Linked DNA regions of Homo sapiens. The protein of the gene in region 2 interacts with the protein of the main gene of each other region in a pairwise test. Each region holds a gene or a part of one and is shown on either strand. Other genes may lie near its edges. The genes, in order: HPX and GALNT12.

Region 1 (16,737 bases), on a different chromosome or scaffold from region 2:
GGACTACTTTCCCCACTGTCAGAATAAAGCCTCTTATGGATATTCTCTTCCTCCAGACCAAGATTGGAGCTGGCCGCCTCATGGGCCCCAAGGGAGTGGCCGTAGACCGGAATGGACATATCATTGTGGTCGACAACAAGTCTTGCTGCGTCTTTACCTTCCAGCCCAATGGCAAACTGGTTGGCCGTTTTGGGGGCCGTGGGGCCACTGACCGCCACTTTGCAGGTATAGGGGGACAGCTCCAAGATCTATGCTGATACCCCTGTTCCAGAGAACTCCCCTAGATACCCCAGCTGTAAAGGCCCTCTCCTCCTATATCTTGGCTCTGGAGATCCCACTTCCCTTACGTTAGCCCTATCATCTCAGAAATAATTTGTCTCAGTCCTGGAGACCCCACCCCTCTCCTAACACCCTAGCTTTTATCTTCCCAGATACTCTTCCCCATCCCACTCAGCATCCCAGCTTACTGCCCTGAAGACCACTTTGTATTTTCAGGGCCCCATTTTGTGGCTGTGAACAACAAGAATGAAATTGTAGTAACGGACTTCCATAACCATTCAGTGAAGGTCAGTGTCTTCCCTCCCTCCGTGACCACTGTCCCAACATCCTTTCCTCTTCCACAAGACTCCTCTCTATTTTACCTCCTCCTTTTCCCCTTTGAGATCATTCACTCAAACAATACACATTTACACATTTATGCATGGCTGCTTTGTCCCAGGCAGTATGCTAGAAGCTGGAGATACAGTGATGCACAAAGCAAATGTATTCTGTGTCTTCTTGATTATAGTCTAGTAGGGAAGAGAAAAAGGTAACCAAAAAATTACAATATGATGTAATAGATTCTGTGATAGGAAGGTGCAGGGAACTGTGGGAAGGGATACAGAAGTGTATGATTCAGGAAAGACTATATGAGGAGGACCTCAAGCACAAGTGGGAATTAAATGGAAGGCAGAGGAGGACGAGAGTGTTTGAGACAAAAGACACAGGAAGAGCCAAGAATGCAAGGTGGGAACCTTAATAGTGTGTTCGAGAAATCACAAGTAGTTCAGACTCAGCTTGAGGAGGGGACCGTGAAAGCTGAGAGTGAGGCTTGTGTGCCCCCTTAAGGGGCTTGCTCTCCTCCCAAGAGCTATGGGGAGTCACAGGATTGCAGGCAGGGGAGTGATGCAGTCCTGTGTGTCTTAGATCACTCAGGCTGAGGCAAGACTGAGACAGGAAGATCAATCTTTTGCAGTGATCCAGATGAGAAATGATGTGAGCCTGGACCGTGAGAAAGACGAGACAGTGTATGCATAGGGTATAGACTTGAGAGAGGGATTTGAGATGGAATCAAGAGTTGTGTTAATTCATTGGCCTATCAAACAGAGAAGAAATTGGAGTCAAGAGTGACTCATGGCCAGCTGGGTGGCACCAGTCATTGAGATAGAGAACTAAGAGAACTGATTTCCCAAAGAAAATGAGCTGTTAGATTTGATATTCCCAATGGACATCAGCAAGAGATGTCTACTAGGCAGTAGGGCACATGGATGTGAAGCCTATGAAGCAGATTTGGGCTGTAGCTGTAGATCTGGGTGGGGGTTCTCAGCCCTGGGGCTTCACCCTATCCTCCTCCAAAGCCCTACCCTCTGCCTGAGGCCAGGTCCCCAGTCCCTAGCCCCTTCCCCCGCCAGGTGTACAGTGCCGATGGAGAGTTCCTCTTCAAGTTTGGCTCCCATGGCGAGGGCAATGGGCAGTTCAATGCCCCCACAGGAGTAGCTGTGGACTCCAATGGAAACATCATTGTGGCTGACTGGGGCAACAGCCGCATCCAGGTGAGTAAGGCCTGGGAATGACATGAGGGGGCGGTTTCCTGGTGTGTCCCATATGCCCGTTCCCCCAAAACAGACTCTCATCTGCCTGATCTTGCCTCTCCCTCCTTTCTGCACTCCTTCCCCAGGTATTCGACAGCTCTGGCTCCTTCCTGTCCTATATCAACACATCTGCAGAACCACTGTATGGTCCACAGGGCCTGGCACTGACCTCGGATGGCCATGTGGTGGTGGCTGATGCTGGCAACCACTGCTTTAAAGCCTATCGCTACCTCCAGTAGCTGTACAGAGGCCCTGCCTGGCTTGTGGAGGGACAGACATTGGGGTGATTGGACAAGAGGGTCTGGCTGGGAGGTGGGCCAGACCTGGCAGCACTGAATGTGGGCTGTGGGCATGGGTGCACCCGGTGCCCTCCCTCTCCTACCCCCACCCCCACGGTTGCACTTTATTTATTCGGTTCTTGCTTTGGTGACTGGGTGAGCCTGGACTGTGGTCCCAAGGATGTGTGCAGAGCTTCACCCTACCCTTCTTACACACCTCCCCACCCCTGTCAGTCTGCTCCCCATCCCCCAGCCTGGGGCCAGAACAGCCTACCCCAGGACAGGAGTCCCTCTAGTTGTCTCCCTACCACCCTATACACACTGACAGAGACAGCAATACCCCACCCCCCATATTAAATAAATGTCTTCACCAAGATGTTTTTGCTGGGTTCTTGTGGGGTGGGGCTGCAGTGAGGAGATGGGATGGTGGGACTAGCTCTGGACTAAAAGGTGGGCAAGCAGGCAGGCAAGGGACCCAGCTTCCCAAGCAGGTCCTGATATTTTGAAACTTCCGTAGAGAAGAGCAAGAAAGGGTGAACCCATGGGACCCTGACCCACCTGCCATATCCCCATCCCCAGGCCCTACAGAAGTAGGCAAGTCCTTTGCCTATCTGCCCTGGGGCTGGGAAGGATTGTGGGGTTGGGGGGGTGAGGGAATGACCTCTGCCCAGCACACAGCCAGTAGGTGCAGAGAGAACAGTGTCAGGCTATGAAAGCAATCTTTGAAGTTCAAGCCTGGGCAAGGGAATTGAGGCTAGCCCAGGTGGTAGCTACGTGTGGGAGACTCCATGGCTAATTTTAAAAGTCATCCCTGAATCCCTGGAGCCCTGACATATCCCCTTTCTCACATTTCCAAGACTGCTGCCCCTCCCTGCAGTGGAATTAGGGTCTTCACATTCTCTCCTGAGCTCTAGACTGCCAGAGTTTTACTGCTATCTCCAGAGAGAATTGAAAGCAGCATTCAGTGATGATTTGGCAAGTAGGGACTATGATTTCTCTCTCTCTCTACAAAAGACTGAAGCTCACAGAAATAGGTCATATTGTTGATGAAGAGCAGAGCCCAGATTTGAATATGTAGCTGTCATACTCCTAACCGGTGAGTTATAGCACCCCGTTCACCCTTATGCCCCTTGCACCTGGCATGATGGCTGGCAGAGAAAGCACTCAACAAGATTTGGGGAACGTTGGATCTGGGAAAGTTGATCATGAGAGGTCATGGAAAAGATCAAGACATCGATCTGGTATAGCACAATTCTGGGGCTAGGAAAAGAGGGACTATCCATGGATCTGTGGAAGACCATGGGGGCTTTGTAGAGAACAAGGGGGTCCCACTTGGACTATATGGAAAGTCTTGGTTATGCTTACCTCCCTGGTCCTCTCTGCCCCACTAGCTGAAACCTGACAGATAGGCCAGGCACAGTGGCTCACGCCTGTAATCCCAGCACTTTGGGAGGCCGAGGTGGGTGGATCACCTGAGGTCAGGAGTTTGCGACCAGCCTGGCCAACATGGTGAAACCCTGTCTCTACTAAAAATACAAGTATTAGCCAGGCATCGTGGTGGGTGCCTATAATCCCAGCTACTTGAGAGGCTGAGGCGGGAGAATTGCTTGAACCTGGGAGGCACAGGTTGCAGTGAGCCGAGACTGTGCCACTGCACTCCAGCCTGGGCAACAAGAGCAAAACTCCATCTCAAAAAAAAAAAAAAAAAAAAGAAACCTGATAGATAGGTGGAGGGACCGATGAGCTCCCTGAAGATTTTAGTGCAGGTGCTCTTATGGAGCCTGCCCCTCTGGCTCTGATTGTGAGTGGAATTGCCTAAGCCCATGCCCTGGTCAGCCGAGATGGTGTGCTCAATTATCAGTCGCTCAGCACCAGTGGAGTCCTCCCCGAGAACTCTCAGGTGATGGTCTATTTTTCTGCACCCCTATCTTGAGCAAGGCACCAGAAGTAATACAGAATGGAAACTCAAAGCTTCCAGCCCTCAACCTGTCACATGTTTACATTGTGAACACCTAAAAGTAGCAGGGGAATAAAAAGGCAGTAAGGGTGACCTTCCTTGGGCGGGATGCTGCAAATGGCTCTTCTGCTAGCCCAAGAACAGGCTGCTAGGGCTGATTTCCATAGATTCAGATTAGGTAGTCTTCCCATGCCATGGAAAAGGTACATCAAGGTGGAGTCATTCTGTTCCTTCTAAATCCAGCCGTGGTGGGCATTTTCTTTCCAATTCAGGCCTTGGGGCCAAGTAGATGAAAGTAGTGCCTGACAGTGGAGGCCAAGTCTGGAATGATTGTCACAGATTTGGGGGTCACAGCAAAGCCCCTGCTGTCAGAATGTTATTTTGTGGTCCTGCAAGGGTTCACACTTTGCTCATATAGGGCTGTCTGGTGACCAGAACAGCCCTATGGCCATTTGTGGTCTGCGGGTTCATTTATTTATTGAACAAGTATTTGTTGAGCACTTAATATTAGACAGAGTAATGGGCCCTGGGAATACAGAGAAATGGTCCCTGCCCTTATTAAGCTTATAGTCTAGTGGAGAAGGGAGACAAGTAAGCAACAAGGAACTAAATGTGTAATAACAATTTGAGTTCAAGCTGTGAAGGAAATGAACAGAATACAATGATAGACAATATAGTGTTAAATAGAGTGGACAAGGAAAGTCTCTTTAAGCAGTGACCTGTAGGGTTGGAGCAGGGTGGGTAGGGAACTAGCTGTGTTAAGAAAAGGAGATAGAGATTTTCAGACAAAGGAAAAACAGGTACAAACATCCTGAGGGGTTGAGATCTTGATGTGTTTGAGAATCTGAAAGGAGGCCAGGGTGACTGGAGAGGAAGGAGGGTGGAAGGAGAGAGGAAAGGAACAAGTTTGGAGAATTAGGCCTGACTTCGATCATTTAACTAAGATAAAGAGCTTGGATTTGGTCTGGAGTATGACAGTAAGCCACTGAAAAGTTTAAGTGATAAGGATGAAAGGGATGCCCTGTGAAACAAACTTTAAACTGGGCAGTGATTCTGTGGGGTAGGAAGAGAATTGAGAAAGAAAATCAGAAAACAATTCAACTTCTCTAAACTGTTCCTCTTGAAGACTGTGTATACATTAGAATTACAACTGACTTCGGCCAGGTGCAGTGGCTCCCGCCTGTAATCCCAGCATTTGGGAGGCCAAGGTGGACAGATCACAAGGTCAGGAGATTAAGACCATCCTGGCTAACACGGTGAAACCCTGTTTCTACTAAAAATGCAAAAAATGAGCCAGGTGTGGTGGCAGGCGCCTGTAGTCCCAGCTAATCGAGAGGCTGAGGCAGGAGAATCACTTGAACCCAGGAGACGGAGGTTGCAGTGAGCCGAGATCGCGCCACTGCACTCCAGCCTGGGTGACAGAGTGAGACTCTGTCTCAAAAAAAAAAGAAAAAAAAAAAAAATTACAACTGACTTCAAGAAAAAATTTTAAGCAGGAGCATAAGGTGATCTCAGATACGTTTTTAAAGATCACTGTGGTTGTTATAAAGAATGTGTTGTAGAGGAGCTATTTCAATGGTCACACAAGAAAAGGTGGTGTTTGCATTACTAAAGAGGCAGAGAGAAATGGACAGATTTTATGTATAATTAGGAAGTAGGAATAATAGGATTCAATATTTATTAAATACATACAGTATTTCAGGCGTGTTCTCAGTGCTGAAGATATAGCAGTGACTAAAGCAGGTAGGATCCTTGTCCTGTACACAAAGGCAGCATGGTAGACTGTGGGGTGCTGGAGCTGGCTCATGAGAGCTGATTGTCAAATTTAGAATTTTGAGAGCTGGTTGTTAAAACACAGCTATTATTAAAAATCAAACTATATAAACTTAAATACATTCTATTAAAACCAAAGATAATCAGTACTTAAAAGTAATCACTTCCTAATTATTTTACTACATTTTACTATCCCCTGTGCTCTTGTGATTATTTATATCTATCATATCTGTATGGTAGGAATATTGTATGCAGTGTGTTACTGTACATCCCTTCCCAACTCTACATTTGGTGATGTCTTGTCGGTAGCTTAAAGTTGGCCATGGTAGGAGTATTTATATCACAAAAATCTGCAAATGTTACAAATCAGTGCTTTTTCCCCCTAGAGAGCAGTTGTTAAATATTTGCCAGCGAACCCCTTGATAAGAACACACTATCCTTGTAGGAACACACCCCTAGGAGTCAGGCACCCAGGGTTTAAATCATGGCTCTGCCACTTGCTAGCAATGTGATTTGGCTAAGATACCTAATATTGGCTTCCTCATTCATAAAACGGGACTCATAGTGCTACCTTTGTCTGTTTGTGCTGCTATAACAAAATGCCCATGACTGATGATTTATAATGAACAAAAATGTATTTCTCACAGTTCTGGAGGCTGGGAAGTCCAAGATTAAGGTGCCCAGCAGGTTTGGTGTGTGGTGAGGTCCTGGTCTCTGCTTCTATGATGGCATTTTGAACGCTGCATCCTCTAGAGGAGACAAATGCTGTTCATCACGTGGCAGAAAAGCAGAGGAGAGAGAATCCACTTCTGAAAGCCCTTTTTATAGCAGCATTAATCCATTCATCGGGCAGAGCTCTCATGACCTAAACACCTCTCATGAGGCCGCACCTCCAAACACTGGCACATTGGGAATTAAGCTTCCAACACATCAATTCGGAGGGGACAGAAACATTCAAACCATAGCAAGTGCTATATACATGCTATATATATATATATATAGCACTAAGGCCCATTATAGACTGAGCAAGAGGAGGGGTCAGCTGGGATCAGCAAGCTCTTTGGCTGCCTGGAGCTTTATCCCTAAGCCTCCTACCCCTGAGGAAAGGAGACATTCAGTTCCTGCTCCCTGGAGTATACAGCCACAGACTTCAGGCCCAGCACACCTAGCACTCAGTGGGCCCAGGAGAAATGGCTAAGGTCAGAGAACTCATATCAACAGCAGAGCAGGCTGGACATAGACATAGCCATTCCAAGGGACAGTGGGTCAGTGTCCAGCTTACATCTGGCTCTTGGCAATGCAGGAGGAAGCTCTGTCATTTGCAGACATTTGCAGGTTCGTGTTCAGACCCCTTCTGGGAGAAGTAAAAAAGCTGCTGGTTAGGAGGATAGAGAAGACTACCCAGGAAAAGAGATGGTTGAATTTCTCTGGGCTCGAGTTCCCAGAGAAGCAAGAGATTGAGGTCCCCAAATCCACTCTGGGCAGCAAGGTTTGCAGAAGAAGGGAAAGAAGCATAGAAGGGTGTGTACCACTAAGGATGCACAGCCAGGGCTGAGAGGAGTGTGGGACAAAGGCTGTGGAGAGCTAGTTTCAGAGAGGAAAAACTCCTGGGCTCTGGCCTCTAGTTGAAGGGCGGGAGTGCACTGATTCCTGCGGCCTGCAGGGGGTGCTCAGGCCCAAGTACCGACAAGCTTCTTTCCTCAGCCCCAGTAGGAAGCCTGGGAAGGACCCAGGACCCACAGAAGGGGCCTCCTGTAGTGAGGGGAAGAGAAGCAAGGCTGCTGAGTCTTGACTACCCTGAGAAGTCTTGGCTTGTACCCTGTGACCAACACCAGGGTGGCCAACATATCCACAGCCCTGGGTTCCCAAATGTGTACAATGTTCTACTTTCAACTCCTGCCCAAAACTTGAACTTCAACCTGGACTGCCTGCAGTGCAGATGACTCTGCTGGCCTAGTCCCTGGGTGGAGCAGGAGGATCCAGTAATGGTTTCTAAGCCATTCTCGGGTACACAGGTGAATTAGGAAGCAACAGGGAAAAGGGACCATAAAGTAGTATTCTGGGATAGATGGATCCGGGGTGCTGTGAGGGGGACCACACCAGGTGTGTGGGGAAGGGGTCAAGCTGAAAAATGATCATCCAGTATATGTGCTGTATGCCCTCAGACAGCCCTGTTAGGCCAGAAGGAGACTGCACCCTTGGACTGGCAAGTCAGTGCAAGGCCCTGCTAATAGGACTATTGAAGACTCTCACTATGGGTTTTCTGTGGGGTGTTTGTTTCTTGGGGTGAAAGCTTCCCTCTCCCCAGGCAGGCCCAGCAAAATCTGTAGGATTCAGACAGGGTTCTGACAGCTGAAGACAAGTTGTTGAGGAAATTCCTGATGGAGGATCATGGGGTGCTCAGGAGGGAGAATATAAGGTTTCAGAGGCTGAGAGGGAAAGAAAAGGTGAGGGGGAGTCTTAGAATAGTGGCTCCCATTGCCCAACACCCAGAAAGAAGACATGCCCTGCAATGGGGAGAAGGTGAGTATGAGACATTGGCTGTAGCAGCGATGGCATTGCCCAGGCTGCCAAGGACTCAGAGAGTCCAGCCTTGCCCACTGACCTATGAGGAGGGAATGATGTTCACAGCACATTTTCATTCGTAAGTCAGGAGAGGACATTGAGCCTGATGGCAGAGGCCTGGTGACATGTTGTTCCAGAGGTTCCGGAATGTGTGTTTTCCTGTTGGAAGGAAACTTCGCAGAGTAGAAAAGGGATCTGAGACTTTTGGTAAGATTATATATGGGACTGTCAGGGGTCTGGAGCCATCTGTGAGGGATCAGGGCCCTTTCAGCCTTGGCTAGGGAGCAGGGGTCCTGGAACTTCATCCTGGCCCATAGCTGAGTCTGCCCATAATTCTTTTCTGACTCACTAGGCAAATCTCACACAGAAATGGGGCAGCTTTGGGAGTGGGCCCAGGAAGTACTGAGGATAGCAGGTGAGATCCCAGGAAGAGATGGATGTGGGGCCGAGACACTGGAGAGAGAAACAGGACTGTCAGATAAAGGGCGTCTGTGACTCCTAGATCTCATTATGCCTACTACCATAACCTACCCCCAATTCCTAATATTCTCCTACCCTAGAGGGGGGGAAATTGTCAGAAATTTGGCTGCAACACTAGCAACACTACTCAGTACTTGAAATGCATTTTTGCATTTTTTTCATTCAACAAATATTTCTGGAACAACTCTTATATGCCAGGCACTATTTTAGGAGTCAGGGATATATAATGGTAAACAAGACAGGCAAAACAAAGCAAAGCAACAACAACCATCACCAGATAAGTAGACAGATGAAAGAATTTCAAGTTTTAGTAAGTAAAATAAAACAAGCAAGGGTCTGAAATGGCTAGATAAGGTGGTCAAGAAAGGCTTCATTGAGAAGGTAGCATTTAAGCAGGAGTCAGCTAGAAATATTGTGAAATTCCAGTTACAGTTCTATTTGTTCTGGGTTGGTTAAATAAAGCTTTTTCCCCCAAGGTGGAAACTACCAAGAAAGACTAATTACTAGTAGTGGTGGTGCTCTCTGGAAGAGAGACACCTCCTGTTTCTGCCTCATTACTGTCAACCCTTCACTTCCAGGCACTTTTTGCAAAGCCCTTTGCCAGTCAGGGAAGGCGAGAGGCTGGGCATGGGGCTTGGACATTTGACAACAGTGAGACATTATTGTCCCCAGACTCACTAGCCCAAGGGTAAAGCTGAAGAGGCTTGGGCATGCCCCAGAAAGGCCCCTGATGAAGCTTGGAAAAAGCTGTTCTCTGAGTATTTCTAAGTAAGTTTATCTGTGTGTGTGGTTACTAAAAGTAGTAAGTATTGCTGTCTCTAGCTGCCTTAGAGCAGGGCTTGACACAGTACACAGCAATATTAGTTCCCTCCTTTTCTCACCTCCCCCATTGTGGAGATAAACTCAATCACAAAAGGTGATCCTCAGTCTACTCACTTCCCTGACTTATGGATGCCTGGACCCATTGCCAGTGTGAGAGTCACAGCTGGACGTCAGCAGTGTAGCCCAGTTACTGCTTGAAAATTGCTGAAGGGGGTTGGGGGGCAGCTGCCGGGAAAAAGGAGTCTTGGATTCAGATTTCTGTCCAGACCCTGACCTTATTTGCAGTGATGTAATCAGCCAATATTGGCTTAGTCCTGGGAGACAGCACATTCCCAGTAGAGTTGGAGGTGGGGGTGGTGCTGCTGCCAACTCTATATAGGGAGTTCAACTGGTCACCCAGAGCTGTCCTGTGGCCTCTGCAGCTCAGCATGGCTAGGGTACTGGGAGCACCCGTTGCACTGGGGTTGTGGAGCCTATGCTGGTCTCTGGCCATTGCCACCCCTCTTCCTCCGTGAGTAAAGCTGGGACTAGAAGCGAAGGATTGAGTTCTGGGCTAGGGTAAGGTAGGGCCAGTTTTTAGGCCTCGGTCAAATTTGGGGTCAGGGGCTATGGGAAAGGGATCGGTCCCAATGGATCAAGATATCTATTTTGTTCTCCCTAGGACTAGTGCCCATGGGAATGTTGCTGAAGGCGAGACCAAGCCAGACCCAGACGTGACTGGTGAGGCCCTGACTCCCTAAGTCTGTCTTATCTGTCTGGTTGTGTCTCTGCATTTTATCACCTTCTGGTTTTTTTTTTTTTTTTTTTTTTTTTTTTTTTTTTTTACTTTGCCATCTCCCTACCTCCACCCCAGAACGCTGCTCAGATGGCTGGAGCTTTGATGCTACCACCCTGGATGACAATGGAACCATGCTGTTTTTTAAAGGTAGGAGGGACTGAGGTTAGGGCGTTTAGGACCTTAGACTTACTCTCCTTCACAAAGGGTGTCCCTGTCTGTGGGAGGTCTTAGGAATTATCTGATGGTATCACTGACAGCTTCTCTCAAGCTATCTCAGTAGGTCAAAGGTTTCTCACTGGGCCCCTCAGTGAGTGTGGGTTTTTTCAGGGGAGTTTGTGTGGAAGAGTCACAAATGGGACCGGGAGTTAATCTCAGAGAGATGGAAGAATTTCCCCAGCCCTGTGGATGCTGCATTCCGTCAAGGTCACAACAGTGTCTTTCTGATCAAGGTACTGCTGGGCCAAAATCAGGGCCAGGCTGGAAAGGGCTGGAATCGACACTGGGGACCCTTCCCCCAAATGGCCTTGGCATGGAGCCCATAGCAATAGGTAGCAGATTTCTTTCCCATGTGCCCTCCTTTCCTGTAAAAGCTTGGGCTAAGGGAGTGTGCATGCGTGTGGGCCTGGCAGGTGCACCATCCAGTGGCTGTTCTTCAGTCCTAGTCTTAGTTCTACACCGCTCTGCTGTACCTCACACTGCTGGCCATCCTTTTTTTCTCTGGCAATTGCTTCCCTTGCCTTCCATGACCCTGTATCAAGTCCTCTTCATAGGGCAAGGCAAGTTGTTCCCAACACAATGGCACCTGGCTAGAAGAGCATGTGGAGCATGAAATCCAGTCTGCTGTGCTCACCAAGTCCCATGTGACCCAGGCTGTGTCTGCTCAGAGGAAGGGGTGCCTTTTCCTACCTTGCCAAAGGTGCTGTGTGGTTGGGGAAGTCCTGACTGTCGGCTTTGTTTTCCCTCCTGCCTCTTTTCTCTCTCTTCTCAAATGTCTCATTCTATCTCAACCAGTTCCCTAATGTTCCTTGGGGATCCATCCTAGCCTTTCCATATACCTTCCCTCAGTGATCTCAACCATCACCTTGGCTCTGAGGAATATCTATGCTGTGGACACTGGATCTAGATCTACTTTCTGAGCTCCAGACATCTCTTTCCAATTGTATGTTCTACAGGCACCTAAAATTCAGCATCCCCCAAACTAAGCTTTGCATCTTCTTTACAAACCAACCTTTCCTCCTGTGTTTCCTGTTTCAGTAAATGACCCCAAAATGTGCCTGATTACTACAAACCAAGTGCACACAGGGTCTCATGATCTGGGCCTTGGTTATCTTCTCAGGTTTATCTCCTCCCCTGCCACATTCACTGTGTGCCAGCCATACGAATCTACATGAGGTTGGAGCACACTGCTTCCTCATGTTTGGGCTCTGCATGCTGCTCCCTCTGCTGGTAACACCCTTTCCTCACTTGTCAACCTGGAAAATTCCTGCTGATTTTTCAGCTCTTGGGCCCAATGCTTCCTCTTTGGTGTGAAACCTTCCACAACTTCTCTAGGCAGACTTAGGCACTCTGTCTATATTCTCAGTGCACTCTTTACACTACACCTTGGTAGTTGCATGGCTAGGATTGCAGGAGTCCTTTCTGCTTTTGTACAGTGAACTTCCTGAAGTGAAAGACAGAGTCTTGTTATCCTCAGTGCCTCTCACAATGCCTGGCATATAGTAGTTATTCAGTGACTGTTTCTTGGATGAATGAATGAATGAATAAATAAATGAAGAAATGAATGAAGAAATAACGTATGGGTGATTGCAGGATGAACAGTTGTGGATATGTTTGTCAACACTGATAGTGTTGCAGATAAATGTGCCACAGGAGTGTCTGGGTACAGAGCTAGAGGCATGTGTGTTATAGTAATAGTGACTGGATTTGCACAAACTGAGAGTGTGTAATGTGCAAAAGGACAGCACATTGTTGTCCACAGATGGACTGAGAATGTGTAGGGCCACAGGAGGATATCGTATAAGCACAGTAGATAAAAAATGTGTGTAAATGCAGAGTGGCAGTATCTGGGGATGCACAGTCAAAAAGAGAGTACTTTTGAATGCAGGGGGACAAAGTCTGGGTATACCCTCCTGAAAAGAAGGAGAAAGGATACCCAAAGTTGCTCCAAGATGAATTTCCTGGAATCCCATCCCCACTGGATGCAGCTGTGGAATGTCACCGTGGAGAATGTCAAGCTGAAGGCGTCCTCTTCTTCCAAGGTCAGTCCAGGCTGGAATCCAAGAACCTGGAGTAGTGGTGGGTTGGTAGTGATGCCAGTAGTGATGGTGATAGTGGTAGTGATGGTGGTGGTGGAGCCACTATGTGGCTTTTTAAGGAAGGGAAATAGAGAAGCCACGTATGGTCTAGAGGTCACGTGAGGGAAGGAGAGGAAGTCATTCTGGTGAAGGCAACTGTGTGTAATTCTGTGTGAATAGTCCCTCATTGTTCCCCATGACCCTTAGGACAAATCTACCCTCTTTAGTCTTACATACAAGTCTCTCCATGGCCAAATCCCTATTGGCCCTTCAGCTTTGACTTTTATTATACTTTTACCTTAACACTAAGCTCCAGAAACCCTATGCTATTCTCTGTACACTCAGTTTGCTCCATGCTTTGGAATCTTTCCTCTCTCTGGGGTTCCATCTCTCCTTGTGTGCCTTTTAATTCCTACTTCAGATTTCACTTTAAGTATCATCTTCCCTGGGAAGTTTTCCCAGACTCTCCCCACTGCCTTTGCTGAGCTGATCCTGTGTGTTTTGCTGCTGAATTTTGGTGTATGATCACCCTCCTTTAGCCATCTCTCTGATGGCTGTGAGCTCCATGTGGTCAGTACCATTATCTGGCCCATCCTGGGACCCAGAGAAAGCACAAAGGAGGGCGTAACCCGGTCTCACCAAATGCCTGTTGATTGATTGGACAAAGGTGACCGCGAGTGGTTCTGGGACTTGGCTACGGGAACCATGAAGGAGCGTTCCTGGCCAGCTGTTGGGAACTGCTCCTCTGCCCTGAGATGGCTGGGCCGCTACTACTGCTTCCAGGGTAACCAATTCCTGCGCTTCGACCCTGTCAGGGGAGAGGTGCCTCCCAGGTACCCGCGGGATGTCCGAGACTACTTCATGCCCTGCCCTGGCAGAGGTGAGAAAGCCCTAGCACTTGAGACCTGTCAGAATTCATCCACTTTCCCTGAGCTTGTGGATCTCACGTGTCCTAGCTCTCACTTTAACTCCGTGTTGCGACACCTTGGCCCTTAATCTAGCCCCATTTCCATTCTGGATTTTCCCATTGCCCTCATATGGGGAAACCCACACCCCACTAACCCCAGCCATCTCTTCCACCTTGGACCTCACTCTGACCTCTGGCCTCCTTCTGTGTTCTCCTCACCCATTTCTCTCTCCAGGCCATGGACACAGGAATGGGACTGGCCATGGGAACAGTACCCACCATGGCCCTGAGTATATGCGCTGTAGCCCACATCTAGTCTTGTCTGCACTGACGTCTGACAACCATGGTGCCACCTATGCCTTCAGTGGTGAGAGATGCCCCCAACTCCCCCAATGTGCTCTCACATCTCTTTTACTTGTATCTCCCATCCTTGACACATTTCTCCATTGTCATCACTGTGTCACTTATTTTGTCCCCTCTGTCCCCATCCTTCTGCATGCCCTTCTGCATCCCTCATCTCTGAGGCATATTTCTCAATCTTGTCTGTCACGGCCCAAGCCCCTAACTTCATCTACCTGTCTACCATCTACTCCCATGGCTGTGCCCCCTGTGGACCTCTCTGGGCCCCTATGACTCCTTGTGTTCTCCTTGCTCAATGCCCTGCTGAGCCCTCTGGCTCTCCCTTGCTCCCTGGACCTCTATGTGTCTCTGTACCTCCTTGCCTCCCTTTGTTCTTGCATATCTTTCTGAGTCCTCTGGCTCCCCCTGATTTATCCTCAGAACTCCATCTTGTTTCAGGTTCCTGGTTCCTATGTCCAGACCCCTGGGCATAGCACTGCCTGGGGATGAGATGTTCTCATTGCTGAGAACCAGCTGAGAAGTGTTGGGTACTTTAGACCTTTAGAGGCTGGCTTCACTAGCCTCTGGAGGTTTCTCCTCTGAGTAGCCAATGGAGATACCCCTCCCTTGACCCGTGGCATCAATTGGTAAAAGCCATCTAATAATACCTAGGGCTGTTCTGAGTTCAGTCAGGCAGTAAATAGTCATGCTGCACAGTTGAGAATATCCCCAAGAGGAGTGAGCAACCACATCACATCCAACCTGAGATATATGTATAATTAGGACAGTGGTAAGAATATAAAATCGTGAAAATATTTTTTTCACACAAAATTTTTTTGGCTCCTGACCCTTGGACAAATTTGACCAGTTATGACTATCAAGTTCTGTTGAAAAATACATCACCACATGGAGAGCAAATCTCCACAGCAGGATTGCACACTATAATAAGAACATACAGCTAAGATGAAACACACACCTGTAGTGAAAATACAACATTAAACTGAGAACATACGCCATAGTAAGAACACATAAGTATCAAGAGAACACACAGCCATGGTGGGAGCCCATTGGGAGGACACACAGACAAAGTGAAATGCAGAAAGAGAGAGAGAGTGAGTGAGAGATTGTGAAAACAGGGCCACAGGAAACACACAGAAATAGAGAGAGACACCAAGCCATCTAGAGATCACAGAACTTCAAGGCCATGTGGCCATAATGAGAATGCTACTGAACTCCTAAATGAAAAATGTCATGTATGTTCCATAGCTGTTGAGAGAGCCCACAGCATGGAGAGAACACCTTATATTAAAAATACCCAGGCCGGGCGTGGTGAGTCACGCCTGTAATCCTAGCACTTTGGGAGGCTGAGGCAGGTGGATTGCTTGAGCGGCTTGAGCCTAGGAGTTTGAGACCAGCCTGGGCAACATGGCAAAACCTCATCTCTACAAAAAATATAAAAATTAGTCGGGTGTGGTAGTGCGTTCCTATAGTCCCATCTACTTCAGAGGCTGAGCCCGGAAGGTCGAGGCTTCAGTGAGCCGTGATCGTGCTACTGCACTCCAGCCTGGGTGACAGAGTGAGACCATGTCTCAAAAAAAACAAAAACAAAAAACAAAACAAAACAAACAAACAAACAAAAAACCCATATATATATATATATACCTAGCTGAGGTGAGAATGCACTATTTTGGTAAAATCACCAACATGACCCAGCTACAGCATGGGGCAGTCCCTCCCCTCTCACTGGTAAATTTTTCTTTCTCTGACTCACAGTTTTGTTGTTGTTGTTGCTGTTGTTTGAGATGGAGTCTCACTCTGTCACCCAGGCTGGAGTGCAATGGCGCAATCTTGGTTCACTGCAACCTCTGCCTCCTGGGTTCAAGCGATCCTCCTGCCTCAGCCTCCCGTATAGCTGGGACTACAGGCGCATACCACCATGCCTGGCTAATTTTTGTATTTTTTTTTGGGTTACAATGTACTATTTATTAATTTAATTTTTGTATTTTTAGTAGAGATAGGGTTTCACCATGTTGGCCAGGCTGGTCTCGAACTCCTGACCTCAGGTGATCCGCCTGCCTCGGCCTCCCAAAGTGCTAGGATTACAGGCATGAGCAACCACGCCTGGCCCCTCATAGGTTTTTATCTATTCTCTTTGCTTCTTCACAACTTTGGCTTGCACGTGGACCATCATGTTCTCTCCACTTTCTCACTACTTCATGATCTTTCAGTCTCAGTTCCAACTGATACCTCCCTCAGTTGCTCTTTTTTCCTAGTAAGATTTCCAGAGAGGGAATCTGAATGGCCCAGTCCATATTTTCAGACCACACCACATTAAAGTGGTTGATTGCCAGCCTATGTATTGGCTACATTAATGGGTTGGGAACTCATCATTTACTTCATTGCACAAAGCAGCATAGCTCTGGTTCTCAAAATAGGGCCCCTGGGCCAGGTGTGGTGGCTCATGCCTATAATCCCAACACTGTGGGAGGCCGAGGGGGGCAGATCACTTGAGTCCAGGAGTTCTAGACCAGCCTGGGCAACATGGTGAAATCTCATCTCTACTAAAAATACAAAAAATTAGCCAGGTGTGGTGGCATGCACCAGTAGTCCCAGCTGTTCAGGAGGCTGAGGTGGGAGGATTGCTCGAGTGTGGGAGGCAGAGATTGCAGTGAACCGTGACTGTGCCTCTGCAAT
Region 2 (15,816 bases):
GTGCTGCAACAAACATGAGAGTGCAGATATATTTTCGATACACTGACTTCCTTTCTTTTGGATATGTACGTAGGAGTAGAATTGCAGGATCATATGGTAGCTCTATTTTTAGTTTTTTGAGGAACCTTCAAACTGTTCTCCATAGAGGTTGTACTAATTTACATTCCCACCAACGGTGTGTGAGGGTTCAACCTGGGGAGCTTTTTAAACACACCAATGCCTGGTCCCATTTGGATCTAACTCTTGGGGCTGGGGCCTCGGCTTCTGCATGTTTCAAAAGCTCCCCAGGGGACTTTGGTGTGCACGAGCATTGGGACACATCAGACTGTGGACTCTCCCTAAGGTGGCCCCAGACAGGAGTGGTAACCCTTTCCATCCAGGGGCTTTTGGAAATGTGGGAGGGTATTCTTGGTTGTCATGTCAACCAGGTAGGGCTCCTGGCATTTTGTGTATCAGGGAGGCCAAGTATCCTGCAGATCAGCCCTGTTCAGTGGAGAATGGTTCTGGCCCAGATGCCAATAGCATCCCTGTGGGTCCTGCACATTCTCCAGCCACGACTGGGAGTCCTATACTCCAATGCTGGTACAGCATTCCCCTAGTTTTCCCCTCCTTGTAAAAATTAGGCTTTCTGTGGTTCCAGCCAGCTTGATCACAAGCCATCAGTTCCTGGGGGAGCTGGCCTTTGCCAGGGGCCAGCTAGAACTTGCCCAGCAGGTCTGATGTTGGCCCTTTCAACCTTTTAAATAATGCCCTCAATTGCTTTAAATAAGCGGATGTTGGTGGATACCTAGTATGCAACTTCCTCAATTTGGGGAACTCACAGATCTAAGACCCTGTCTCACGCAACCTGTTCTGAACAGTGCAATTTCCCGATAGTTGTAATTCTTACCCCAGAGTGGTATTTCTAATATCCCCTCTGACTTTCTGGTGTCATTCTAAGGACACCGAAAGCTCAAGTCTGGTTGATCTCTGTTGCACTGTCCTGTGTGGCAGGACTCTTAGGATTTTTAGGTCTCAAATTCCAGACAACGTCCCCCAAAATGTACTCAAGGAAATCTAGTGTTCACACGTGGTCTAGTCTCAGTCCATCTTTCCTGGTGTAGTGGCAAATGCAAAGAAACACGGCCTGGAAGCATGCTGAGGGATGGCCAGATTTGTAATAATGTGGAGAGAACCGTTGAAGCCAACACACAGGCTGATACCTGCAAAAGGAAATTATAGCATTTTTCACTATATGTAATATTTCACAATAACAAACATTAAAATAAAAAAATAGCAATAGTTTCAGGTTCTCTGCCAGCTATCTTAAAAACATTTTCCCAGGAAGTCCTCACATTAACCCTCTGAATGGATATTATAATTCCAGTGTTACCACTGAGGCAATAGGCTCTGAAGTTAGGTGACTTGGCTAATGTCACACAACAAATAAATAGCAGGATTAGAATTTATATTCTAATTCCAAAGCTGACCCTTTGGTCTGGGTGCACCTTTGTTCTTAGGAGATAAGTATTTCTTGATGTTAAGGTGTTTCATTGTGATTAAACCTCTTGCACTTCTGAGAAATTGAAATCATAGAGCGTTTGGTCAGAATGTCCATGGATAGAATCAGAGCATATTAAAGTCATGGGACTTTTTGTTTTAAAGCCCTCCGTGGCCCCCAGATCTCCCCCATGGTGGTCACCTGCCAGGGCTCTGACACGGCTGCAGACACCTGGAATAAGAGAAGCAGGTCTTTCTCAGATGTTCCTCCCTCTTATTGGAAGGAAGACAAGAATTCACCCTTGAATTTCCCAATTGTCTTCCTGCTGCCCGTCTGCATAGGAGAGACGGATGGATGTCTTGGGTGCTTTCAGGATCCATGAAGAGGAGTCGGCAGTGGTGTGCCCGGTGATTGATGTGATCGACTGGAACACCTTCGAATACCTGGGGAACTCCGGGGAGCCCCAGATCGGCGGTTTCGACTGGAGGCTGGTGTTCACGTGGCACACAGTTCCTGAGAGGGAGAGGATACGGATGCAATCCCCCGTCGATGTCATCAGGTCAGGAGCTGACTTCTGGGTGACTTGTTTTTTAAGCATGCCTCATTGAATCTGGCTGACCTGTGAGCGGAGGCCCTCGGGAGGAATGGTTAGCTGTCAGCTTAACTACCTCCCCTCTTCCCACTTTTTTGCCCAGAGTATTTGTTTATTTTTATTAAACGTGTCTGCTACACATGTCAATTTTATATCGGTATATTTTATTTATTTAATTTTTAAATTGTGGTAAAATATACATCATAGAGAATTTACCATTTTAACCATTTTGAAGTATGCAATTTTAGGCTGAGCATGGTGGCTCATGCCTATAATCCCAGTACTTTGGGAAGCCAAGGTGGGAGGATTGCTTGAGTCCAGGAGTTTGAGACCAGCCTGGGCAACATAGCAAGAACCTATCTCTACAAAAAAATAAAAATTAGCTGAGCATGCTAGTGTGTATCTGTAGGCCTAGCTAGCTGGAAGGCTGAGATAGGAGGATCGCTTGAGTCAAGGAGTTCAAGGCTTTAGTGAGCTATGATCACGCAATTGTACTGCAGCCGGGCGATAGAGTGACACCCTGTCTCTATAAAAAAATAAATAAATAAAACAAAGCATGCAATTTTAGTGGCATCGAGCACATTCACGGTATTGTGCAAACATGATCTTTACCTATTTCCAGGAATTTTTCATCATCCCACACAGAAAATATCCCCACTAAGCAATAACTTCCCATTCTCCCCTTCCCAGCCCCTGGGAACCTCTGTTCTTTCAGGCGCCCCATGTGAGTGGAATCATACAATATTTGTCCTTTTGTACTTGGCTTCTTTGACTTATCATCATGTTTTCAAGTTTCCTAGAGAACATCATTCCTTGTGATGGCTGAGTAATATTCCTTTGTACATATATGCTACATTTTGTTTATCCATTCTTCTGTTGGTGGACACTTGGGTTGTCCTTTGGTTATTGTTAAATAATGCTGCTATGAACATCGGTGTACTTTTATCTGCTTGAGTCCCTGTTTTCCATTCTTTTGGGTATACACCTAGGAGTGGGATTGCTGGTCATATGCTCATTCTTGAGGAAACATCTTTAGGCCCCTTTGACCTGGGGTGTGGGTGGATCCATGGCAGGTGGAGGAGTCTGCTCTGGCCAGTGGGTGAGTCAAGCTCTGAGTAGAATGGGCCCAAGGGAGGCTCAGCAGCTCTCATTCTGGAGGTTTTGAAGTGATAGCCTGGCTTCTTCCTCCCCTTCCAAGTTCAGAAGCAAGTGGGAGACAGATGTGGGAGTTGGGCAGGAGGAGGTCAGGACTTCAGCCTCACCGCTGGTGTGTTGAACCGGAAGTAGGCTCTGAGTTTTGCGTCCACATTTGGCAGTTGGGCTTCTGAATTCTTTCACCAGAGTCCTGACCTTAAGATGACCCGCTGCTGGCAGGAGTGGAGCAAGCAAGGAGAGTGTCCAGAGATAAGGCTGGAGAGATGGGCGGGGCCAAGGGAAGGGGTTTGGACTTGACCCTGAGCAGGTAGAAGCCACTGAAGGGATCGGAGCAGGAAGTGACCTGAGCATGTGCTGCGTGCCATGTGGTGAGGGCCCTGGGGGGACCGTTGTAGGCAGGGATACCATTAGGAGGCTCTGCAGTCTTCCAGGTCAGAAACAATGGTTCAGGAGATGGTGGGCACTGTGGATTCCAGAGATGTTAAGATGGAAGAATTGGAAGAAATTGAGTGGGAATTGGGGAAGGAAGGAATTAAGAATGGCACCCAGGCTTCTGTAGGAGCCCTTAGTGAGAACATCCTGCTCAATCCCTCACTGAATAGGTTTGGAAACTGAGACACAGAGCAGGAGGCTCTAATCTAGGCTACTTAGGCAGCCTGTCATGAATTCATGGGGGTCCATGAATTCTAATTGCCCCGTTACCCCACATGCTCAGGGCACCTATCCTCCCCATCCCATAATATCCCTGTGCCTCAGTTATCTCATCTGTATAATAGGTACCAGCATATCCACCCTGCTTATTTCCTAGATTTTTAGGATAAACACACGTGAAGGTGCTTTGTAGTCTAGAACCTTCCCTTCCACTGGGGATGTTGCTGTTGTCTTCTCAGTTGGCCCCATGCTTGGAGTCCAGGGCAGGCCCCGATGCTGCAGGATGTTAACATTTTCAGTGGTTGCGCTCTCAATGTTCTCTTTCCCTATTTTTTTTTTCAAGTTGGGGTCTCGCTTTGTCACCCAGGCTGGAGTGCAGTGGCATGATCTCAGCTCTCTGCAACCTCTGCCTCCTGGATTCAAGTGATTCTCCTGCCTCAGCCTCCTGAGTAGCTGGGATTATAGCTGTGGGCCACCACACCCAGCTAATTTTTGCATTTTTTTAGTAGAGACAGGTTTTCGCCATATTAACCAGGCTGGTCTTGAACTCCTGACCTCAGGAGATCTGCCCGCCTCAGCCTCCCAAAGTGCTGGGATTACAGGTATGAGCCACCGTGCCCAGCCCTTTCCCTATTTCTGAATTCATCCTTTTGCCTGTGCAACTCTGGGACGTGCTGACCTTACAGTGTTCTGCCGTGTAGGCTGGAAGCCGTGGGCCGTTTCTGGTTAGTGCTGGCTTCCAGATAAACCTGGTGGTGGGTGGCGGGAAACAAGGCTGGCTGAAAAAGCAGCCTGAGGCTGGCTAGCTGGGTCCTAGTGGAGGAAACCACTCAAGAGGACCTGGCCCTCGGGGCACTTTCAGATGCCAGAGTTGCCTTTAGGGCCTTCTGCATACTGGCCTCTGAGTGGCATCTGTGAGTGCCTGCCTTGTGAGATCACACCTCCTCAGATGACCATGGCCTGGAGCCTGCCTTCTTCTCGGAACGTGGTCTCTTGCTTCTCTCTTCTCCTTGCTCTCTATGCTTCTAAATGTCCCTGGATTTCTCCCACCCTTAAGCCTTTGCTCATGCTGGAGAACCATTCCATTTCCCTTCTTCTTCTTGGCTAACTGTCCTTTGTCCTGCAGACCTTGCTTCCTCCAGGGAACCTAGTCCTGCCCTTTTGCCCCTGCCCTCCTCAGTGTTCTCCCAGGGCCCTGGCTGACCTTAGTTAACATATTTAGCACACACATAGTACTTACCTGCTGAGAAGCCTGGGAGCCACCTCAAGGCAGGGACCGTAGGGTACATCTATGCCTCCAGGCCCAGCCTAGTGTGGGGCACAGAGGTGAAGGCGGGATATGCTTAGAGATGACAGATGAACAGATGAAAGGGCTCGTGGTGGGAAGGTAGTTGGATAACTGTGATGGTTTTCTGCTGTCTACAGTGAAATAAGGATATCATACTTTTTTAGGTCTCCAACAATGGCTGGTGGGCTGTTTGCTGTGAGTAAGAAATATTTTGAATATCTGGGGTCTTATGATACAGGAATGGAAGTTTGGGGAGGAGAAAACCTCGAATTTTCCTTTAGGGTAAGTATTTCAGTCTTCTCTTTGGACATGTTCTTAACTGATTCTCTCTTTGGGAACGATGGGATTTGCTGTAAGAGCCTGGTGGACCCTGAAAGATGATGACACGCATATCCTATAAACATGCTTGCTTTCTTGTTTTAGCTTTTTAAAAAGTGTACTTTTTCTAGATTTGGGGCCAGCAAGGGCCTTGCGAGTCACATAGTTCTCTCTCACTCTATGGAGAGGAGGAAATGAAACCAGGAGAGAGGTGACTTGCTCAGGGTTAGGTTCCTCCTGATCCTGTCTTCTGGAGCCTTTACTTGATTAATTCCTTATGAAGTGGCCTCTTTATTTAGCACAGTGCCTTTCAAACTTTGACAGATGTAAGAATTTCTTTTTTTTTTTTTTGAGACGGAGTCTCGCTCTGTCGCCCAGGCTGGAGCGCAGTGGCACGATCTCAGCTCACTGCAACCTCCGCCTCCTGTGTTGAAGTGATTCTTCTGCCTCAGCCTCCCGAGTAGCTGGGATTATGGGCATGTGCCATCATGCCCGGCTAATTTTTGTATTTTTAGTATAGACGAGGTTTCACCATGTCATCCAGGCTGATCTCAAACTCCTGACCTCAGGTGATCCACCCGCCTTGGCCTCCCAAAGTGCTGGGATTATAGGTGTGAGCCACTGCACCCAGCCAACACATGTAAGAATTGCTGGGTAAACTTGTTAGAAAGACAGATTCACAAGCACAATCTAGAATTCTAGCTAGATTTGATAGCTTTAGGGTGGGACCAAGATTCTGCTTTTTGTAACAAGCCTTCCTACTGATGCTACTCTACATGGCCCGTGAAAACCGTATTGGAAAACTCCTAGCATTTCAGTAGATTTTCCAGTTAATGAAGTCTTACATTTTAAGCATCAAAACTTTGTGTAAATGTTGGTGCTTTTCAGTGGAAAATTAAGATTTTTAATAATATTTTATATGGTGTTCTGCCCTCATAAAAACTGAATAAACAAGAATTTGGCCTTCTACCGAGGACTCACGCCCTCTGTAATAAGTACCAGATGCTGTGCTTGGTTGTCCCATCTTTGGGAAAATGAGATATTCAAGGCTGTCAGTCCCAGTGTGAGATGGGCTCAGATGCCTTCGCCTGTTGAGTCTTTGGGTGTGCTTTTAATGGTCTCTCTGCCTCTTCCTTAGGTGTCAGGCTGCTCTACCTGTTTCTAGACGCTCTTCCTTTCCCCCTTCCAAACCTCTTTTCTTCCTTGCTGCTTTCCTATCTTCTGTGGCTAGGAGATCAGGTAATCAAGCCTGTGTTTTCTGTAATGAGTAAGTGGGTTGCCAGCGAGGTCTCTGTGGATGCTCCTGTGAGTCAAGTGCATGAGCTTTAGTGCATGGACTTTGGGGTCTTGGTTCCCACAGCTTATATGTTTTGGGGGCTGCTTTCTTGCTCTTTACCCACATTCTGTGTCATGAGTGTGCCGGGTAGGTGGCCTCCTGCCCGATGGAGGCTGAGCATCTTGGCAGTGTCCATCATGCCTTGCGTGTGCCTGGCCTCTTTGCTGCAGATACTATGGACCCGCAGCTCATCCCCTGCTCACCACCTGGCCTCTCCTTTTCTCTGTGTGCAGATCTGGCAGTGTGGTGGGGTTCTGGAAACACACCCATGTTCCCATGTTGGCCATGTTTTCCCCAAGCAAGCTCCCTACTCCCGCAACAAGGCTCTGGCCAACAGTGTTCGTGCAGCTGAAGTATGGATGGATGAATTTAAAGAGCTCTACTACCATCGCAACCCCCGTGCCCGCTTGGTGAGTTCCTCGGCCCACCTGCACTCCATCTGGCTTCATCTGAACAACAGCAGCTAATCGTGGCTTCCCCAACATAGTCGATCTGGTTCCAGAAATAGAGAATAAATTGGGTGCTCAGATACGAGTAAGGGGAGAATTTATTCCTCCATTTATAATAATTATATGCAGTCAAATCTTCTTATTTACAGCTGTTATAGTGCATAAAGCCACCACAAATGCTGAATTCATGAAAACAGAGCCATTGTTCTTAGGGGAAATACAGGGTTAGGTTCCTGCCAGACTTGGGGCACAGTTTTGTCAGCAGATCAATACAGAACCTTGTTTTCTATGTGTTTCTGTTCAAAGACACCTGTTTAACATATATCGTTGCATCATTAACATTGCACTCATGGCTAACAGCACGGTAACTCATGCCAGAATGAAGCTTACCTAGCACGTGTTATTTTCTCTTCATCACAACCTTCTTGCATTTAGGAACACTAGGTAGCACTTCAGCACTACGACTGGGGGACATTCTAGAATAGCTGGTGCAGTCACCAATACAAAGCAGGAAAAAATGTGGTGCCCAACAGATGGTGAAAAGAACACTGGTTTACAGGATGAGAGCTGAAACAAGAAGGCGGTGTGTGCCCTTGTTATATATCACCTGGAAATGGGAGTTAAGTGTTGGGCAACTCAAATTTTTTGTCCATGAATGTGTGTGAAAATTAGAAAACACCACAAGTATTGATTTGGAGGTTACAAATCAATTTTATTATAGCATGTAGGGAAATTCAGATACAGAACCAGTAAATAATGAGGATGGACTGTACCAACATAGATAGTTGGGGATACCTGGTGTCACAGGCCAGGCATTGTCCATGTGTTTTGGTTTTCCTCTTTGTAGCCAGTAGGGTGAGTCCACAAACACAGGGTACAAGTTAAGGCACAGTTCTTTACCTTAAAGCTATTGCTCAGGGACACATCCGCCTTATTAGTTAGGGGTCTGTTACCTCCCTCTAGAGCCTTCTTGTTAGCACCCTGGAAGCTTCCTTTTCTAAAACAGGGAGTCTGTTCTGCTTCCATTTCCAGATGGAAGGACTACTGGAGAGTGGCCCAGGCCCCCGCTGCTACTCTTTCTCACCATATGTCATGGTCATGGAAACCCCCCCACCGCCAGCCTAACAGATGTCTATCTTCCTCCCCACTCAGAGGCCTTGCTGGGCCCATCTCTCTGACCAATGGTGAAGGTGTGCCTGCAGTCACTGAAGTCTCAGCTCAGTTGGCTTGCTCCCCTGGGTCTCAGCCACACACTACAGGGACACTGGCCCATCCACCCACTGCACTGAGTCTGTCGGAGGCTGAGGTTCAGCCCAGACTGTGTCCTTCCTCATAGCGATTTATCTCAGGGACTTGTTTTCTGGTCCGGATCCTTGCTCTGCCTCTACCTCCGGGACCATTGTGGATGAGGGATCTGCCTCTTCTTTCCCAGGTCTTGGGCTTCAGATGAAACACAGTCCACTGCCTCTGCCCCAGCCAGCTCTGCATGCTCCATGGCAGGGTGCCTGCTTGCCCTGCATTTGCATAACTAGTAGGGCTGCTTGGCAATACAAGAAGGTCTTGCTCTAAGGCTTCTCATCAGGCCACTTCATGGAAGTCTCTTCTGAGTCCTTCCAGCAACCCTGCAGGGTAGCAATAAAATTCTCATTTTATAGATGAGAAAACTGAAGCTCAGAGAGACGCTGTTGGAAGGAACTTGTCCAGGCCCTGTGGCTGATAGGAGGTAGAACTGGGCTTGGGGCCTGTACTCTGCAGCGCACCTCTTGCTCTGCTCTGCAGAGCCCATGGGTTCTCAGCTGGACTCCCACTCAGCCCCTCTCTGGCTCTGGGCTCCATGGTCATTTGCTTCTGCCTCCTCCGTCTTGCCCAGCACCATAGAGTAGAAACACCCACTCTTTCCTCATGCACAGTCTGGAACCCATAGTTCCCTTTTCCTGAGGGTTCCCAGAGAATATTTTAGGGGGGCACTGAATGCACCCTTAGGCTTCATGTCCAAGGCCAAGTGCTAAATGGATACTTGGCTGAAGCTGGGGGCGCAGTGACTTTCACCAGTGAAAGAACTCTGGGAAATAGCAGAAATCTGAAATCTTATTCAAACATGTACTTATTATTACCATTTTGTTCAATATTTAACTTGTCAGCTTTTAATTGTTTAACATGACAGTGCAGGTACGGTAATATTTCTGCACTCAGCATTTTTCTTGTGGCTGCACATTTGCGATACTAAATAGAGGCTTGCTGTATTTAATTATTCAAAAGCTCTCAGTCATTAGTTTTGCCCATAAAACCAAACTTGCATAAGTATTTCTTTTTGCTTATTTCATACTGAGAACATGATTACATCTAGAATATTTACCTGTGTTTGAAAGTGGATATTCAGATATTAGTAGTAAACCAGAAAGTCATGGCATATGTTTCGGTGAAACTGACATTTCCCTGGTTGGGTTTCAGGATGACTTCTGATCACAAGCATGGGTCACAGGTCCGGGATCCATAGATGCCAGTGCAGCCCCAGGGCTTGGCTCCTTCACTCCATCAGCAGGCGGGTTGTCCTCTACCCTTGTGCACCTGGTCACACCCCCCTGCCAACAGAGCACCTAGGAATGGAATTGTCTGTGTGACAGCCTCTCATACTAGAAGCTAGAATTAGGTGCAAGGATGTTTTCTATCCTCTGTGCTCCACACAGGGCCTGGCATGCGACGAATGCTCCATCAAAGCTGGCTGGTGGTTAGTAAGTGAGCATCAGTGAACACAGGGGCTTTGAAAGGAAGCACTAGGACCCATGGGGTCTCACTGTTTTGTTGTTTTCTCAGGAACCTTTTGGGGATGTGACAGAGAGGAAGCAGCTCCGGGACAAGCTCCAGTGTAAAGACTTCAAGTGGTTCTTGGAGACTGTGTATCCAGAACTGCATGTGCCTGAGGACAGGCCTGGCTTCTTCGGGATGGTGAGTGAGGGTGGTGGGCCCACGGCAGGCAGGGACTTCCCTGGCCTCTGGGTCTGCTCTGCAAATCCTGGGCAAGAAAGGCCACGTCATGGGGAGCACTGGCTTCCTCCACTCCCACCCGCCTGCCCACCCCCCACCACCTTTTTATCCACTGCCCTTCTTTCTCCCTGTGAGCGTCTGGGCCGTAGGTGCAGAATGTCAGAGCTGGAAGCCATCTCAAAATTGACAACTATTTTGTAGGTAAGGAAACTGAGGCTTATCTGGTGTTTCCATGTCCTAGTTTTTACCAACGCCTTATCATATTACTTCTAGTCTCAATGGCTGGACTAGTTAATAATTCCAAGTTTGGAAGTCTACAGAGGCAATAGTGGGTATAGGGGAGTCACTTCGAGTATTTCAAAAAACCTAAAAAATGTTTTTGGGATGAGACCAGATAAAATGTCCAGTGTCTTTTGTTTTTGCTGGGAATGACACCAGCTTAGCAAGGTCTCCTCTGCTGTGATGTGTTGATCAGAAGTGCTGGTGTTCCATTCTAGAAGTCTTTGATACATATAAAGCAGGATATTCATGTTACATTCTATTTTCATTATGAAAATATTCAAACATATAGAAATGCAGAGAGAATGGTATGAGAATGGTATAATGAATACCATCCCTGAGATTCTAGAATTTTCAAGATCCTGCCTCTCTTTATCTCTTTCTCTCTCCTGTACTTCACCTCCACATTTTCCTCTTTTTAAGCAAATCCCGGGCATTGTGTCATTTCTCTCCTCTGCATTTTATGCATTTTCATAACATTTGGACATTATCTTACAAAACCGTAGAAATGAACAAGTATTTCTTGGTATCATTTAATGTCTAGTTCTAATACATATTCCCCCAACTTTTCCAGTTTCTCTTTGAGTGGCTGGCTAATTCGAATTGGGATCCAAACAAGGTGCACACATTGCATGTGATGGTTGTGTCTTGTCTCCTAAATCTCTTTTAATCTAAGGCAGCCCTCTTCCTTTTTCTTGTTAATATCTTTAACTTGTTGAAAAAACAATATGTTACCTGTGGAGTGTCTCACTCTTGCAATTGCTATTTTTTTCTTTGTGGTGTCTTCAAGTTGTGCCTCTCTCCCCCATATTTCTTTAAGATAGAAGTGAGTTCTAAAGGTTTGATTAGAGTCAGGATCCACCTTTTTGGCAAGAACACTTTGTGGGTGATGTTATGTGTTCATGTTGTGTCATATCAGGAGCATAGGAAGTATGGTCATCTTTAGTGATAAGGTTGACCAGTGGGTTAATGGAGTATCCCTCACCTGGACCAGTCATTATAAGACCCCCATCAGCCTCTGTCTCATGTTTTTAGTAGCCACTGATAACCATTGCCTAGGCCCATTATTTCAAATGGAGTTGCCAAATGGTGATTTTTCTCTTTCATTTCTTCCACATTTATTAGCTGAAATTTTTCATAAAGAAGAACACTCCCTCATTAACTAAAGCAATTTGGTATATGTGAGTTTTAGAATTCATACAGAAAAGGCACGACAAATTCTTTTTTTTTTTTTTGAGAGAAAAGTCTTGCTCTTGTCCCCCAGGCTGGAGTGCAATGGCGCGCTCTCAGCTCACTGCAACCTCTGCCTCATGGGTTCAAGCAATTCTCCTGCCTCAGCCTCCCGAGTAGCTGGGATTATAGGCACCTGCCACCATGCCTGGCTAATTTTTTTTTTTTGTATTTTTAGCAGAGACGGGGTTTCACTATGTTGGCCAGGCTGGTCTTGAACTACTGACCTCAGGTGATCTGCCTGCCTCAGCCTCCCAAACTATTGGGATTACAGGCATGAGCCACCATGCCCGGCCAAGGCATAACAAATTCTTAAGTCTTTTCTTTATTTGCTTATTTTCAGAGTAAGAGTTGGTATTTTAGTTTCCTCCAGTTGTATCTACTGGGTTGTTTTTTTTTTTGTTGTGGCTCATTGTTTTTTTTGGCTTTTTCTCTTCTTGAGTGTCATTGTAAACTAATGGGTGTTTAAATAGCCGGTGTGCTTCAATCAATTCATCTTTTCTTCTTTGTATTGTTTTTTGAGACAGGCTTCTATTCTGTCACCCAGGCTGGAGCACAGTGGCACCATTGTAGCTCACTGTAGCCTGGATCACTGGGCTCAAGTGATCCTCCCACCTCAGCTTCTTAAGTAGCTGGGACTACAGGTGAGCACCACCACACCTGGCTAATTTTTTATTTTTATTTTTAGTAAAGACTAAGGTCTCGCTATGTTGCCCAGGCTGGTCTTGAACTCCTGAGCTCAAGCATTTCTCCTGCCAAGGCCTCCCAAAGTGCTGGGATTACAGGTATGAGCCACTGTGCCCAGCCCAATTCATCTTTTTAAAAAATATATGAAAATTGTTTTTGGCCAGTGGGAGTCCCTTTATTTTGGCTTCTGAGGTCTTTGACACCTTACAGTGGCGTTGATAGCCTCCTTGATTCTGGCCAAGTTGTCCCATTCGAGTTTTAAACATTTCCTGCCATTCCTCCCAGAAGCCCTGCTCCTTTGTTGGGTAACGGTATTGGGAGTCAGTCTGGATGCTGGCGGTGCCCGTTGCTATGCGTTGTCATTGCCTCCAGACCATGCAGTTTAACAGAAATATAATGAGAGCCACCGTTGTAACTTAAATTTTTTTAGTAACCATATTAAAAAAAAAGTAAAGTTAATGAAATGTTTAACTCAGTATATCCCAAATAATATCATTTCAACATATAATTAATATAAGTATTTATTCATTGAGGCATTTTACATTCTTTTTTCATACTAAGCCTTGAAATCTGGTGTGAATTTTATACTTATAGCATATCTCAATTTGGATTAGTTACATTTCAAGTGTCCAGTAGCCACAGTGGCCAGTGGCCGCCACATGAAATAGCACAGCTCTAAATTTTTCTCATTGGGCAGAGAAAGGAAATTCGTATTTTTGAGAAACAGATCATGAGCTTATATTAATATCTGAAAATCCAATGTAGTCTTGAAAAATTTTCTTTGATAGCATACTCATATTTCTTTTTTCTTACCCTGAAAATCTTGGTTTTAAACAATATTAACATAATTACTTATTTTCTTTATCCTAAAATATATTGAAAATAGTTTCAAGATAATTAATACAGTACTACAGCTTAGAGTATTATACTGAATGAGGTTTATAATTTCTTTGCAGCTCAGTTTGTTTATAGAATATATTTCATAGGTGGTATTTTCAAACATACCATGCTCTAAAGTGATTTAAATTAATTCTTTTTTTTTTTTTGGTGGTGGGGAGGACAGAGTCTTGCCTTATTGCCCAGGCTGGAGTGCAGTGGCATGATCTCAGCTCACTGCAACCTCCGTCTTCTGGGTTCAAGTGATTCTCCCGCCTCAGTCTCCCAAGTAGCTGGTACTACAGGTGCACCCCACCACACCTGGCTAAGTTTTGTATTTTTAGTAGAGATGCGGTTTTGCCGTGTTGGCCAGGCTGGTCTAGAACTCCTGGCCTCAAGTGATCCACCTGCCTCCGTCTCCCAAAGTGCTGGGATCACAGGCATGAGCCACTGAACCCAGCCTAAAATAATTCTTTCTTTGTGTCTATCGCCTGCTTGATTTAGTTAGCTTAATTAATCTAGTTCGAGGTATCAACCCAGGTATATTTGGACTTGCACAGCAGTAAGGCTGCTACTAATGAGAAAGAAAGAGAGAGGAGCTTTCAGGCCATGAAGAGTTTATCTCTCTGGTCCTCAGGCTTATCAACTTAAAATAGGGGTAAGGATTCTTGCCTGCAGAACAAGGAAGCACTTTTAAAGCTAGAAGGTGCTGTACAGAAAAGACTCTTACCTTTGCGTCTAGCTCTTGAAGCAGGCTCTCCTCTCATGCCAGGTACCCTCCCCAAGCCTTGTGTGGCATCTGTTAGTGTCTATAAATCTGGACTGAAATGCCACATTTATGTTTTATTTAGCTCCAGAACAAAGGACTAACAGACTACTGCTTTGACTATAACCCTCCCGATGAAAACCAGATTGTGGGACACCAGGTCATTCTGTACCTCTGTCATGGGATGGGCCAGAATCAGGTAGGTATGAGCCTCAAAAGAGGAGAAAGCTGTGTGTTTTGTTAAAAAAATTAAATAGTTGAATTTTTTTCTTGTAAAAGTAATATTTGGGAAATATAAAAAGTAGAAGCCTAGGGTGGCCAGACTCAGAGAGACCACTGTTAAAATTAAAATGTGTTTTCTTCCCATCATTTTTTACACATAACACACAGAGATTATGTGTTGTAAATAGTTGTCATAATGTCTGTATGTTTTATATTCCATTATTTCCATTCCCTTCATCTACTTTTCTTATGTTATTAGATACCCCTTGAGAATATCATTCCTAGTGGCCACTTGATATTTCATTTTGTACCTGTATTACTGTTTCGTTAACTGGTTCCCTGCCTCCCTGTCTTTGCAATTATAAATAACCCTGCCTCTAACACCTTGGGTCAGACAGAAGGAAGGATAAAGTAACAGATCTGCATTTCAGATGATTTCCTTAGAATTAATTGTTAAGTGGAATGACAGGTTTAATGCATAGGGCCACCTTGCAAGGTGGTGTTTAGGGACATTGCCTCAGCTGGGGGCCAGGTGTATCTGTCTGGGTGAAGGGCTGTAATTCAGGCTGGGCAGGGGAGATTCAGTCCTGGGGGAGTCTGAAGACCAGAAAAGGACCCCCAGCCCTGGAAAGCAGTTGACAGGACCCTTGGAGGATGCAGGAATGGAGAGAAGTGTTGGTTCTGGGCCTCTGAAGCTTCACCGTACCAAGGAGTTATCAGACACCAGGAAACAAAGGGATAGAGATTCAGATGTTGTTTTTTCCAATCTGGATTCACCCCAATGCCACTTGAATATGAGGCCTTCTTATGGTCAAGAGTAAACTTTCTTAATTCCAACCCCTGCAACCTTAAATTATTTAGGTTTTCAACACTGTTTAGAACAGCCTTCCTCAAAGCTGATGGTACCTGAGTGCTACCATCAGCATCATCTGGGAGCTTGGAAATGCACATTTTCAGACTGATCCCAACACTACCGAATCCCAGACTCTTGTTTTAAGCAGCTTTTCAGGAGATAATGGTGTGACAAGCCCTGCTCTGTGCGCCTTAAGAACACCCACCTGTGTCAGAATTTTTGAAAGGGGCTGGTGGGGTGGGTGGGTGTCTTGTCAAAGATGCAGAAAATGCAGCTTCCTAGGCCCCACCTCACACATAAGGAATCCTTATTCCGTCTCTGGGATGGGGCCAGCAATCAGCATTTTTAACAGTCACTGTAGGTAGTTCCTAGTACACTCAGGTAGGAAAACCATTGTCCGGGAAGAACCAAGTCTTCCCGTTAGCGGTCACATTGTCTGCTTGTGCACAGCACTTTACATCTTCTAGGAACTGTCATATTGGGGGTTTGGGAGGAGAGACTGAGGAAAAGGAGAGGAAGTAGCTAGTCAAGGTCACAGAGAGCCCCCAAGAGCTAGTGCTGCGATGGGTCCATTTCCCTTCCTCCCATCCCACACCAACACAGCATTCAGCACTGCAGGCAGGAGGTGACATGCACCAGCCCTGTCTCC

The links.
Region 1: the proteins of GALNT12 (region 2) and HPX interact in binary tests that used the Homo sapiens proteins (3 or more experiments, as listed by UniProt).

The regions. Positions count from the first base shown.
Region 1 is NC_000011.10:6,434,380-6,451,116, reverse strand, and holds the start of HPX (hemopexin precursor), read left to right. Parts: upstream 1-10,129; 5' UTR 10,130-10,153; coding exon 10,154-10,236; intron 10,237-10,386; coding exon 10,387-10,445; intron 10,446-10,578; coding exon 10,579-10,650; intron 10,651-10,830; coding exon 10,831-10,952; intron 10,953-12,607; coding exon 12,608-12,761; intron 12,762-13,464; coding exon 13,465-13,677; intron 13,678-13,939; coding exon 13,940-14,071; intron 14,072-16,737. Other genes in the region: TRIM3 (tripartite motif-containing protein 3), read left to right, coding at 57-225, 496-566, 1,671-1,811, 1,937-2,089. UniProt on the Homo sapiens protein: Binds heme and transports it to the liver for breakdown and iron recovery, after which the free hemopexin returns to the circulation.
Region 2 is NC_000009.12:98,829,919-98,845,734, forward strand, and holds part of GALNT12 (polypeptide N-acetylgalactosaminyltransferase 12), read left to right. Parts: intron 1-1,821; exon of another isoform or gene 1,822-1,830; coding exon of another isoform or gene 1,831-1,853; coding exon 1,854-2,039; intron 2,040-5,330; coding exon 5,331-5,448; intron 5,449-7,053; coding exon 7,054-7,230; intron 7,231-10,083; coding exon 10,084-10,215; intron 10,216-14,177; coding exon 14,178-14,291; intron 14,292-15,816. UniProt on the Homo sapiens protein: Catalyzes the initial reaction in O-linked oligosaccharide biosynthesis, the transfer of an N-acetyl-D-galactosamine residue to a serine or threonine residue on the protein receptor.